Regions from separate parts of the Homo sapiens genome. Here regions 2 and 3 are each reported to be linked to region 1. Evidence: microRNA targets listed by miRTarBase, many of them from high-throughput screens and not tested one by one. Region 1 holds a microRNA gene; each other region holds the end of a gene's coding sequence.

What was found. The annotated mature microRNA hsa-miR-4661-3p reads CAGGAUCCACAGAGCUAGUCCA and lies in region 1 at 2,239-2,260, shown strand. An mRNA with a match to its seed (bases 2 to 7 or 8) in the 3' UTR can be bound and repressed. Matches are read on the target gene's strand: a 7mer-m8 pairs with bases 2 to 8, a 7mer-A1 pairs with bases 2 to 7 and ends in A, and an 8mer does both.
Region 2: miRTarBase lists SPANXN5 as a target of hsa-miR-4661-3p. Seed matches in the 3' UTR shown: 7mer-m8 at 841-847.
Region 3: miRTarBase lists TMEM170B as a target of hsa-miR-4661-3p. Seed matches in the 3' UTR shown: 7mer-m8 at 3,410-3,416.

The regions. Positions count from the first base shown.
Region 1 is chr8:91,203,293-91,207,539 of GRCh38, forward strand. MIR4661 (microRNA 4661) reads left to right here and starts at 2,193; the gene lies at 2,193-2,267. All of the region lies in intron 7 of LRRC69 (leucine rich repeat containing 69), which reads left to right.
Region 2 is chrX:52,793,042-52,797,288 of GRCh38, reverse strand. SPANXN5 (SPANX family member N5) reads left to right here. Exons shown (of 2, transcript NM_001009616.4): 1 at 1-15; 2 at 658-1,145. The coding sequence ends at 801. Among named protein-coding and RNA genes, the nearest start is that of SPANXN5, 2.3 kb to the left of the region's middle.
Region 3 is chr6:11,574,932-11,579,178 of GRCh38, forward strand. TMEM170B (transmembrane protein 170B) reads left to right here. Exons shown (of 3, transcript NM_001100829.3): 3 at 500-4,247. The coding sequence ends at 630. Among named protein-coding and RNA genes, the nearest start is that of TMEM170B, 39 kb to the left of the region's middle.

The DNA of each region.
Region 1 (4,247 bases):
TTCTAAATCCTGTTGTTCAAGTGATTTAGGGTATCATTATGCTCCAGTAGTCTTTGTGCCAATAAAGGATCTGAGTTGTGAATATGCTTATACCTATCTTTTTTTTTTTTTCTTTCCGAGACAAAGTCTGGCTCTGTCACCCAGCCTAAAGTGCAGTGGTGGTGATCTTGGTTCACTGCAACCTCCATCTCCTGTGTTCAAGCAATTCTCCTGCCTCGGCCTCTCAAGTAGCTGGGATTACAGGTGGCCACCACCACACCTGGCTTTTTTTTGTGTGTGTATTTTTAGTAGAGATGGGGTTTTACCATGTTGGCCAGGCTTGTCTCGAACTCCTGATCTCAGGTGATCTGCCTGCCTTGGCCTCCCAAAGTGCTGGGATTACAAGCGTAAGCCACTGCGCCCAGCCTCAGTGTATCTTATCACTAGCCACTCACCAAATTTACCAAAGAATCTTTTAAAAAATACAGATTATCCTACCCTAGAACTACTAAATCAGAGTCTGTAGCAGTAGGATCCTGAGCATCCACATTTTTATGAAGATTTCTAGCCGGGCACGGTGGCTCACGCCTGTAATCCCAGCACTTTCGGAGGCTGAGGCGGGCAGATCACGAGGTCAGGAGATCGAGACCATCCTGGCTAACACAGTGAAACCCCGTCTCTACTAAAAAAAATACAAAAAATTAGCCGGGTGTGGTGGCGGGCACCTATAGTCCCAGCTACTTGGGATGCTGAGGCAGGAAAATGGTGTGAACCCAGGAGGAGCAGCTTGCAGTGAGCCGAGATCGTGCCACTGCACTCCAGCCTGGGCAACAGAGAAAGACTCCATCTCAAAAAAAAAAAAAAAAAAAAGATTTCTAGTTGATTTTCATGTGCAGTCAGGGCTGAGAATCTCTGCTCTCCCTGTTTAGGGCTGTCCCAGTACCACAGGGAAATGGTTGTGTCTTACACACCTTACTAAGCAAGGCCTATGTGGTTTCTCACACATAACAAAAAGTTGAATATAAAAAAAGTTGAATGAATATTCATTGGTTGAATATATGAATTAATGAATTGTTAGTGACAAAGGTGTAGTACAGCTAATAGTGAAAAAAGAAAAGGAGGTGTTGGTGAAGGAGTAAATCCACTGTGGAGCACTGGAAGATGACAAACACCTTAATATGGCCTCTATGCTGGGGAGAATTCTTACTATGGCTGCCTTCAGGCACACTGTAGAGTTTGCTCTGTCAGTCTGCTTCTTGGACCCTATGCTGAAAGTCTTTCACTTTACTCCACTGTAAGCAGAACAAAGGCTCCTGCATACAAGTATGCTATGTTCCCAAGGATCTCCAGAGCCTGGATTAGGCCTTTCGCCTTTCACAGCCCATGGCCTCCCCAGGGACAATCGATGAGTGCATGTGAATGCTGATAATGTATTCTTACTAGCATTATTAGTTGTTTCATAAGCTTACATTTCTAACTCCTGGATGAGATCATCACTACTTAGGTTCAGAGATACATTATCTTTCTCAAAACTGTAATTGTGAAACTTTCTTTCATGAACTTCACTATATGTGTTGTTCATCATGAGGTTCAACAAGGACAACTTTTTTTCCACCAACTTTTTAGTTTGAGAAATTGGAAAACAACACATAACTTGAATGAATAATACAATGAACATTTGTATACCCTTTACCTAGAGTTGCCGATTTTTAATATTTTTTTCCATTGGCCTTATCTGTTACTGTTTTTTGCCTTTCAGGATGCATCTTGTCCAAAACAAATTTGATATTGACACAAGCCAAGAATGTAGCCTACCTAGAAAGATTGTATTATTACTTTTCAGGGCAAAAATAGAAGAATAGATTCGAATTATAAAAAATATGAATGAATGAATGAATGGATAAATAAAGCTATCCTTCATACCAAGTAGAGAGATTTTATCAAGAGTTACAGTGGATAACACAATATATGAGCCAGAAAATATGTAGGTTATTTTAGCTATACTAACCCACGCTTAGGACATGGAGGCTCACGTTACTGGCCTGTTTACTTTCCAAGAAGCAGAGTACAGATTTTACAACAGCTGCTTTACGTAGTTCATTTATAATCCTGTAGAATGAAATCCAGGAACAGTCATCAGAGTTCACATCACCTGATGTCAGGTATTTACACATCACCTGATGCCAGGTATTCACGTCACCTGATATCAGGTATTTACTCTGAACTAGCTCTGTGGATCCTGACAGACAGCCTGATAGACAGGATCCACAGAGCTAGTCCAGAGTAAAAGACCTAAATCAGCTGTGGTTGTGGTGTAGAGCTACTACAATTTTTCTCACAATGTCCTTTACCAGAGTTTTTGACACTGCCAAGTATTGTAAAATGTTGCATGTGAATTGGGAGACTAAAAGGAAGGCTAGAAGTGTTTTCCTCTTGATCCAGTCATGTACAAATTATGTCTTACTAGACATAACCATGTGTGCTTAAGACAAAAAAATAAAAGTGGAAGAATCTAATCAGAGAAATCATTCTCATCTCAGTTACATGTATATTGGGCTTTAGTGTAGTGGTTGCCTATAAAAGTTCTCTATGAATAAGAAACAGTGATTTAAGTTGTTCAGTTTTTCAATACCTTGATGCTCTTGCTATGGAAATGTCTTTGTCAAAGTTGAGTTGGTGTTTATATCAGAAAGCTTTGAAGTCTTCATGGCATTTAGCAAAATTTGTAGTAATCGATTTACTTGGTGTTGGTGTCTGTCTCTACCACTGAATACTAAGCTCAAGGAATTTAAGAACCATTTTGGTTTTGTTCACCTTTATAGAGAGAGAGCTTCGGACAATACCTGATAAAATTTTATTTCTACAGAATGATAAATCAGATCTGGATTTGAATACCAGCTCCTCCTTTAATTAGTTTGTCAACATATTACATCTCTATGTATCATAAGAAAAATCTGGCAAAGGTGCTGCCAAGGAAGGCTAATGTTAAAATTTTTAAAAGCCCAGAATCTAGAACTAAACAGATAGCCAAAGAGAACATTAAAATAGTGGTTGAGCAGGAATTTGAAAGTTAAAACCAGCTGGACCTTAAATACAAAGAGAAAAGACAGCTCATCGGTGGGAAAATGAGGATAGAAATGTATGTTGGTCCTCAAGATGGGAGTAAATATGTAATCTTGATCACATATGTAGCTATCTGTGAATTGTTCACATTATCATCTGGAATGGATTGTTATATTCAAGAGACATTTAATGAGTACAGCGTGTCAGATTACTCGGAAACAGTTTTCAAAACATCCTGCTTTCCACTGGTGATGTTCTGAACACCTTAGACAAGTTGCCATGTTTAATTGTGCTCTGACAGATTCCCTCTCAAAACCATCTGATGTGCTGCTACTCTTATTTCATGTCTCTCTTTCAGAAACTACAACCTAATACAAGCAACAACAGCCAGAATTTATTTGGTACTGAGTGTGCATCTGGTGCTCTGCTAAATATGTCACCTGGAATACCTCAATTAATGTCCAAAATAACCCCATGACACCAGTAAGAAATCCAAGGCAAGGAGAAACCAAGTAATTTTGCCAATTTCAGAAAGCTGCCAAGTAGAGGATATGGGCAGGGAACTCATACATGTTATTCCTGATCCTTAACCAGAGAGTCTGGGCTATGTTTCCTATGCTTTTCCAACCTAGTTATTCCCCATTTACTTCAGCTGAACTTAAGACATTTATGTTAAAGATCCTTCTTCTGTCCTCATTTATTTATCCACTGAAACTTATTTATTTTTTTCTAACTGTGTGTCAGATTATTTGCCAGGGCTGGGAATACAGAACCCTGATCCTTGAGAAACTCACATGTTCCCAGGAGAAGTGGGATAATAAGGATTGGAATCTGACAAGTTAGGTTTGATGTCCAGCCCTACCACTTGCCACCTGTGTCCTGTTACTTCCCTCTTCAAGGCTAAGCTTCCTCATCCTGTCAAATGGCAATAATAATAATACCCATCACACAGAACTGTGGCTAGGGATCATGAGGTAATGCATAAACAGTGCTTAGTACAGTGGGTGTTCAACAAAGGTAGCATATAGTAGGTGCTTAATAAGTATTTTTTTTTATGTGTGTGTTTTGTAAACCAAGGCTTTCAGACAAGAAAGAGAGAATGATTGCATTCTTGTGATAAGCAGATGTGAAGCTGCACAGGATGCTGTGAGAAGAAGGCATCTCCAGTAAATGGGATAGTCCCTGGTTTAACCCTGGTGCCTACC
Region 2 (4,247 bases), not on the chromosome of region 1:
AGCAAAAATGATGAGGTAAGATTGTTAGGTTTTGAAGTGAAGGCGAGGGTGAAAGAAAGACACACAGAGAGGGGGCAGCTCAAACAGCAACACAGGAATACTGCAGACGCTTGTGGAAGTGGGGGACCAGCTTAATGCCAGATCCCACCACCGCTTACAGCCTGGGGTACTTACAGGTATGGGTGGGAGGGATCTGGGCAGCATGGCTTGCTGCCCAGCAGGATATTGATAAGATGTTCTTATGATCAGGTGGTTTGGCCCTTTTTCTGGTGGAATATCGTTGTGGTGTTCCTTAGAACTTTGCCAAGCAAGATATGATAGGGATGTTTCTTTAGTTGGGCCTTTGTCTGCCTTGTGGACAGGTGGTTAGGCAGGATGTTTCTCACGGCCTGAACCCCCATGGGATGTTTCACTTTGACCAAGGTCTGCAAAATAGCAAAGAACTTACAAAATGGTGCAGTTTGGACTAACAGATGACCCTACCCATGCTCCTCTTCTTCCCCATAGATCCCTACCCTGTGAGTCAACCTTGTTCTTCTCTGGATCGAACCCCTTCCTCAACCTGCATTCCTTCTCATAAAGCCCCCCTTGCTATCCAGTCTCTATCCTATTCACCCAAAATAATGTCTTTCTGGCCTCTCCCTGTTTTCTTAACAGATGCAGGAGACACCAAACAGGGACTTAGTCCTCGAACCGAGTTTGAAAAAGATGAAAACATCAGAATATTCAACAGTATTAGTGTTGTGCTACAGGAAGACTAAGAAAATACATTCAAATCAACTCGAGAATGACCAGTCCTGAGAGAACTCCATCAATCCAGTCCAAGAGGAGGAGGACGAAGGATCCTCACAGGAGGACGAAGACCTAGACTCATCTGCAGAATCTTCAAAGCAGGATGAAGACCTACAATTACCTGAAGGATCTTCACAGGAGGATGAAGACCTAGGGTTATCTGAAGGATCTTCACAAGAGGATGAAGACCTAGACTCATCTGAAGGATCTTTGATGGAGGAAGAAGACCCAGACTCATCTGAAGGATCGTCAGAGGAGGGTGAGGAAGACTAATTAAACATGGAGAAACCAAATTGGACAAATCCTCACCACCAACGGTGATGATTACAATAAAATCAAGTTTGAGAAGCTGATGGCTGCATATATCTATGCCTGTTTTCTGATGGTGGGGGAGAAGGGAAGGGAAGAGGTAGGCATTTGAGAAGGGAGGGATATGAGGTCCTGTAGGGTTGGTGGACAGACTCACAGGTTGACAGTAAGCCAGACATTGTAAATAAGGCCTGGGGGAGCACTGATTCCTAAAGAAAATTTTCTTCTTAAAATTTCCTCCCACAGGAAGTGGAGATGTGTATATGTTCATGCAACTGTACCCGGCAGCACATAGTTCTGCTGAATGTACATATCAAAGGTATTCCCATCCCTTTTCCATTTGATATTTTCCTAGGTTAGAAATATATGCTTTATAAAGAGTTAATGTTCTGTAAAACACAAAGCACAATACAGACATACACAGACACCTCTGCTCACTCTCTCTAGAGGGATACAATTAAAAACATTGGTTATAGGGCCGGGCACAGTGGCTTGCGCCTGTAATCCCAGCAGTTTGGGAGGCTGAGGTGGGTGGATCACCTCAGGTTTGTGAGGTTTTCAAAGAAAGATCTTGATCAAAAGAGGGAATGTGAAGCTGACTGTGTGAATGAACCAGCTTCTCCAGTGCCAATGAGCCTCATTTCAAAGCAGTGGAGATAACTAGAAAATTGTACTGTTACTATAAAAGAATAACAAAAGGGGGAAATTGTAAGGGTAACTAAACATAAAATTGAGATTTTCCTGTTGCCAAAAGAGCAAGAAGAGACCTTCCCCATTTCACTTTCCTTAGAGCATTTCCTTGAGAAAATTTGTATTTATAAATTCTTCCTTTGATATGTAAGCCTCTGGCCACCCTATAACCCAGGAATGTCTTGAACTTGAACTCCAGGCCTCAAGTGATCCTCCAGCCTCAGCCTCCCAAAGTGTTGGGATTACAGGTGTGAGCTACCAAACACCGCCACCAGGAATGTCTTTCTTCAGGGCCATGGAGCATCTCTTTGAAAGGTGAACGTTGAGGAAGATGATGTCTTTGTCTCCCTGTCACCAGGGGAGTTTAACTTAGGTGCCTTGCTCCAAGCCGTAAGCACCTGCTTGTCATAGAGATATGAGTTTTATTTTTCCTTCAGATAAAGGCAATTAACTAACACAGATGGGTACTCCAGTTACTCGATGAACTTAGGACTTGCCTGGGAGCATTTAGTGTTCACCCTTGGCTGCTGCTGTACAACAAGGCCAATTACCTACATATCTGGACTTTCTGATTTCTGCTACCACTTTTTATTTTTTGTTTTGTTTTTGTTTGTTTGTTTTTGAGGTGGAATCGCCCTCTGTTGCCCAGGCTGGAGTGCAATGGTGCAATCTCAGCTCATTGCAACCTCTGCCGCCCAGGGTCCAGCGATTCTCCTTCCTCAGCCTCCCGAGTAGCTGGGATTACAGGCGTGCACCATCATGCCCAGCTAATTTCTGTATTTTTAGTAGAGACGGGGTTTCACCATGCTGGCCAGGATGGTCTCGATCTCCTGACCTCATGATCCGCCTGCCTTGGCCTCCCACAGTGCTGGGATTACAGGCGTGAGCCACCACGCCTGGCCTCTGCTACCACTTTTGGATTGTATGAAACACTACACTTCAAAGTGTGGGATCTGGCTTCCTAGACAGCTGTCAAAGGGGCAGTTGATGCAATCTAGAAGTGTAGGGGAGTTCGCACCTGTGGGGTAAATTTTGACCAATAAGAAAAGGAACCAGGAGTGAGAGTCAGGTACGTAATTCCCTCTCCTCTCCTCTCCTCTCCCCATGTACCATTCCAGGCATTGTTTCTCAGTATAGTCTGTCTAGAGGTGTCCTGTATGGCCCAAAGCCTGTTTCCTTGGGAATCTGAGCTAAAGCAATGGGCATTCAAACACTCGAAGACAGTGTTAAGTGTTGTGGAGGACCCAGATCTGGGCAGAGGAAAATTATCCCAATAAGAAAATGGACAATTTGAGGATGTGGAATAGAGGGAAGGACTAGAAGAACCAGTAGTAGTATAGCTTAGGGGTACTATTTTTGGAGAAAAAGGCAGTTCTGGTGATTGTTCCAGTGAATTGCTCAGCTCTGTTATATATATATATATGTTTATATCCTTTCTTTCCATCATTCTCCCCTATGAAATCATCCATAAAGTATCCTTTTATAACTCTCTATTGCCTGTGAAGTGAATTTTCTTTTTTTCTTTATCTTTTTTATTTAGAGATAGAGTCTCTGTTGCCCGGGCTGGAGTGCAGTGGTGCGATCTCGACTCACTGCAATCTCCGCCTCCCGAGTTCAAATGATCCTCCCGCCTCAGCTGCCCTAGTAGCTGGGACTACAGGTGCGCACCACCAATGCCTTGCTAATTTTTTTTATTTTATTGTATTTTTAGTAGAGAAAGGGGTTCACCATCTTGGCCAGGCTGGTCTTGAACCCCTGACCTCAGGTGATCCACCCGCCTCAGTCTCCTAAAGTGCTGGGATTACTGGCGTGAGCCACCGCGCCCAGCCTGTCACTTTCCTTTTGGAGAATAAAACATATTGAGTCTTGTGCCAAAATGCAGGGGAAGCTGCACCCAGACAGGTAACAAAATATTATATATATATAGATAGGTTTTTTCTACATACCAATATTAACGATTTAGAAAACCAAATTGAGAAAAATTACACTTATATAGTGACAAATATACATAAAATATCTAAAACCAGATGATTGGAGCAAGATGGCAGATAGATCCCGTGCCCCACTCAACATTCCATTGAACTGGGAAGAAAATGTTTTCAAGGGTCAATTCTCAAGAGTAGAGGAAAATAAGAAAACGTGTCAGTGGTTCACCAGAAATATTGAGGCATTCCTGGGAGATAGAGTAGATGTGATCAGACTGGTAGAGAAACCCAAGGAGACAAGAGCATCACTGTAGACGAGAGATGCTGTTTGAGACAAAGACTTACTCCGTCGCCCAGGCTGGAGTGCAGTGGCGTGATCTCAGCTCACTGCACACTCTATCTCCCAGGTTCAAGGGATTCTCCTGCTTCACTCCCCACTGTAACTGGAATTCACAGAGGCCTGCCACCACGGCCAGCTGATTTTTGTATTTTTAGTAGAGACGGGGGTTTCACCCTGTTGGCCAGGCTAGT
Region 3 (4,247 bases), not on the chromosome of region 1:
TTATATTTTACATGATATTTAAGAATTCATATTATTCAGAAAAGATACCTTTAATATTAAAATATTTATTAATAATTTAGAAATTACATTAAATTATGTTATTTTTCTGCATTATCACTTGTAATTATCAGTATGTTATACTGTATGTTTACAAAAATGCTAAAGAGGTCTAGTTAATTGAATGCCCAGGTGAGAGGTTGCAATAATGAATTATTCATTGTTTATGAACATATTTGCTATCAAGTATGCAGCATATACCATAAATATATATCTTTTGGTTGAATAGAAAAGTCTGTTTTTCAAATAAGTGGCTAAGTGTATTATGGTAAGTTGTAACTTTCACCAATCACAGGGAAACTTTTTCATAGAAAGTGGATAAAATGAGAAAAAAATGATGACTTATGTTTTGATGAAATGAAAAGAGCTCTTAAGGTGCAGCATGCAGTGTGTTATAAAACGAGTGACTGTATCCCTTCATTTTTCTCCCGTTTCTCCTTAGGTGCAGCAGTAGCGGGCATTTACAGAGTAGCTGGGAAGAACATGGCCCCTTTGGAAGCGCTGGTATGGGGCGTTGGACAGACTGTACTGACATTAATCATCTCCTTTTCAAGGATCCTCGCTACACTTTGAGGTTTCTGTGGGAATGTCTTACTTCACATAAGGAAACAGATGTACAGATTCCCTGAAAACGGCATTGTTAACAAGTGGAAATGAAATTGTGCAAGAATGTGGACTGAGCAGGTCAAAGCATAAGGAAGACCTTGAGCTGTGTGGAAGGATTGCCCTCTGGTGTTCAAGTGATTGCACTACCGCACTGCACCTTATGTGCCTCTGTCTCAGGCAAGGTGCATTAAGACACTATGTAAAGTTACAAGAAAAAGCACCTTGTTTAGCTGCCTATCAGGTTAACATTGGTGTTGAAATCATCGTTCCTAACAGTGTTATGTTAAGTTACAGGGACGTTTTGAGGTATTGATATATGTGCCAAACTCTTTTCTTTTTGTTAACATTGATCATGTGACAATTTGCAAGTGTAGATGTAGCTGAGTGCTGTGAACATATTTGACATGAATTCAGGTAATGTACTAAGATTTTTGTTCGGTAACACTAAATCCCGTATGAGTGCTAAATACTGAATTGTTTAATATGAGAGAAATTATTTGGTTTTTAATGTTGCGCGTTTCTGGGATTTAGGGCTTCAATATGTTTAGGTATTATTGTTATTTAATTGATGTGGAAGATAAGTCTTCTTAACTGAAGACTAGCTCAACTGTTTTAAGAACTCAGAGTAGCTCTATAGGGTGCATACTTTTCACCAACTTAAGTAACACCCTTTTAATAGCTTCTCTCATGCATCCATATTCTGTTTATACAAATTCAGAAACTTGAAGGGTCATACACATTGATTGTAGTTTGTGCGTCATAAAAATGTAATTTGAAGATTTTCTTAAAAATTTTTGTAAGAAAAAAGTCTGAAATGCATGTTGCATTCTTTGACCCTTCTAAAGAAAGTTTTTGCCTTGTATCTCATGGACAAAACATCTTTATAACTAGTATCTCAGTGGGATTGTATTACGTGTTGCATATATCTTGATTTTTGACAAAACATAAACAGTCTTTCATTCTGGAGTATTAACTGTTTTTAGAGACTGGCCTAAATTAGGCTCTGGAAATAAAGACCTCATTTGTAGAAATAAGTAACAAGTAAGTTATATAGGAAGAGTAATGAACTATTTTACTTTGGACATGTGGCAACATCATAATTTTGCTAAGTAAAAATTGGGGAATATAGTAGATAATTTTAAAATTTGGCAATTAGTCTCAGCATATCAATGCAGTACTGAGCGTGTATTAGAGTAATTCAGTTGTTCAGTTCTTGATTTATGATATGAAGTTATGATTTAAGTTTAGTAGAAGAATCTGTGAGGGCATATAGCAAAAGTGGAAATGTCCTTTATATAAAACATTTTAAGAGGTTCTGGCAATACGTAATTGTAAGAGTATAGGAAGTAGGGTTGAACTGGTCTCCTAATGAGATTTTTTTTGGCACCAGATACAATTATAATGTGCTAACTCAAAGGAGACATTGCAGAGAATATGAAGTTAAGGATAATCCAAAAATAACCTGGTAGCCTTGCTGTTTAATCCAATTTGCTATAAAAGTAGGCCTTTGTTATATTACATTCAAATTTAAGAACTTTGTTACCCATACCACTTTTTCTCTATCCAGAAGCAGAGTATATCCACAACTTACCAATGAGAAGTTGGAGAGGCAGTACTTTTCTCAGTATGGAAGCCAATTTGGGAGATTTACTAACACTGGCTTGGAAATTTGTTTTAAAAAAATAATAAGCAACTATGCATGGATCTTTGAAGTAAATCTTAAAATTGATTATTTTTATTATGTACAGGCCTGAAATTGTTTTCATGTGTTCTTTATATTCCTGATGTTTTTACAAATTAAATTTAGGCATAACTTTTCCAAGTCAATCTGATTTTTTCTTTTCTGCCAGACTTGAATTGTGTTCTTCTTTTACTTTGGCTATTCTGTCAATAATTTAAAGCATTCGTATTCTTCCAGAGGAATTACCAATAGCATGTGGAAATTGTTTCAGATCTCCAGAATGAATACTTATTTTAACATATGTTTATTTTATGATTTAAGAAAGTTATGGTAAAGTAATATGGAGCATGATTCATAATCCAAAATTAACAAGAAAATAACTTGGATACATTAAATGTACTAATGTGTGGACCAAAGAGATTTAAACTATTGTTTTTACTCTAGAATGAAAGTATAATTGAACGGTTAATAATTAGTTTGTAGAGTGTCCTGCAGTTATTATCAAGTTGCTTTACATTATCAATTGTGTGTGTATGTGTATACTTTTAATTTTAGGGGTTATTTTTGGTTTCTTTGCTGTTTTCAGTTATTTCCATTGAGATTTTGTGCAACTGTCTCTCTTTTGATGTTTTGAGATGCAGTTGAATAGTTTGAGTTTGTGAATTGTCTTAATAGCTATTTATATGCTGAAATTTTTAAAAAGTTAGTAGCTTTCCTATAGACACAAGAAATGTTTAATGATATATATACACACACGTATATATCATTATATAGGTATATAGAGAGCTGCTATATATGAATACAGTCTACTTGGAAAGCTTTTTTTCAGTGAACACTTTCATGTTCTAGTGGAAAATTTGTTCAGTGTAATGATCTTTTAAATAGGTTTGAGGATGTTTGAAAATTTTGAATTTTGGGAAAATTTTCTTCACTTAATAGAGCTGGAGACCCTTGTTTGGGACATGACAAAAGTCCTTATTGATGTATTTGGGTTATATACTTTGTTAAAATTCGTATGTGATTTAGCAGTACATTTTCTTCGTGACAAATGCAAGAAGGGAGGGAGGATCCTCTATAGTGGACACTCCTTTATTTAAAAAATGTTTAATAAAATATTGTTTATAGTGAAATCAGCTCCCCAAAGAAGGAACTCCTACATGCCCAAACTAATTACAGTTGAACATACTGATTAAAAATGCCATAGATCACAGCTAGTCAGGAGGCCTCAAATAAACTGCAAATAATGCTTAAAACTTTAAAAGAAGGAGAACCAGCAGTCTTCCGAACCATGGGACAGTTCCAAGGTAATAGCCTACCTTGCCTAGGATAAGTGAAGTCCTAAATGATGGCTATCTTCAGGGCCTGGAGCAGAATTATTCTTTAGATCTTAATGTTTACCAAACAGTGTTACAGTTTGTTACCCAATATACTTTCTTAGTATTTGCAGCATACATTTCACTGCTCAAAAAAGTATAAGGGTTTTGTTTGTACTTTAAATGAGAGAAATAAAGAAATGAGTTGGCCTGTATATCTTGTATTTGTGATATGAGCAACGGGATAATTTGAAATCACAGAATGTTGTGGGAAAGGTCTTTAAAGAACCTCTAATGAAGAAAATGTGGCTGCCACATTGATGTACCTAGGCTGCCACTCATACAGCAAATAATTCTATTTTGTAAACACTTCGTGTGGATCCACTATGTAAAGTGCTCTACCAAGTATTTTCTCTAGTAAGAAGTACAAGAATTACCAAGATGGAATTCTTTACCTTGAGTACACCAAGAGCTAGCAAGATGATTTTTAAATCCTAAAAAGTTTGGGACAACATTTTGCTTCCTGATTTTAGTTGAGAGTTAGCCTGTTATCCCTCCAAATTCTCATTTTCCTGGTTCATCCACTAAAT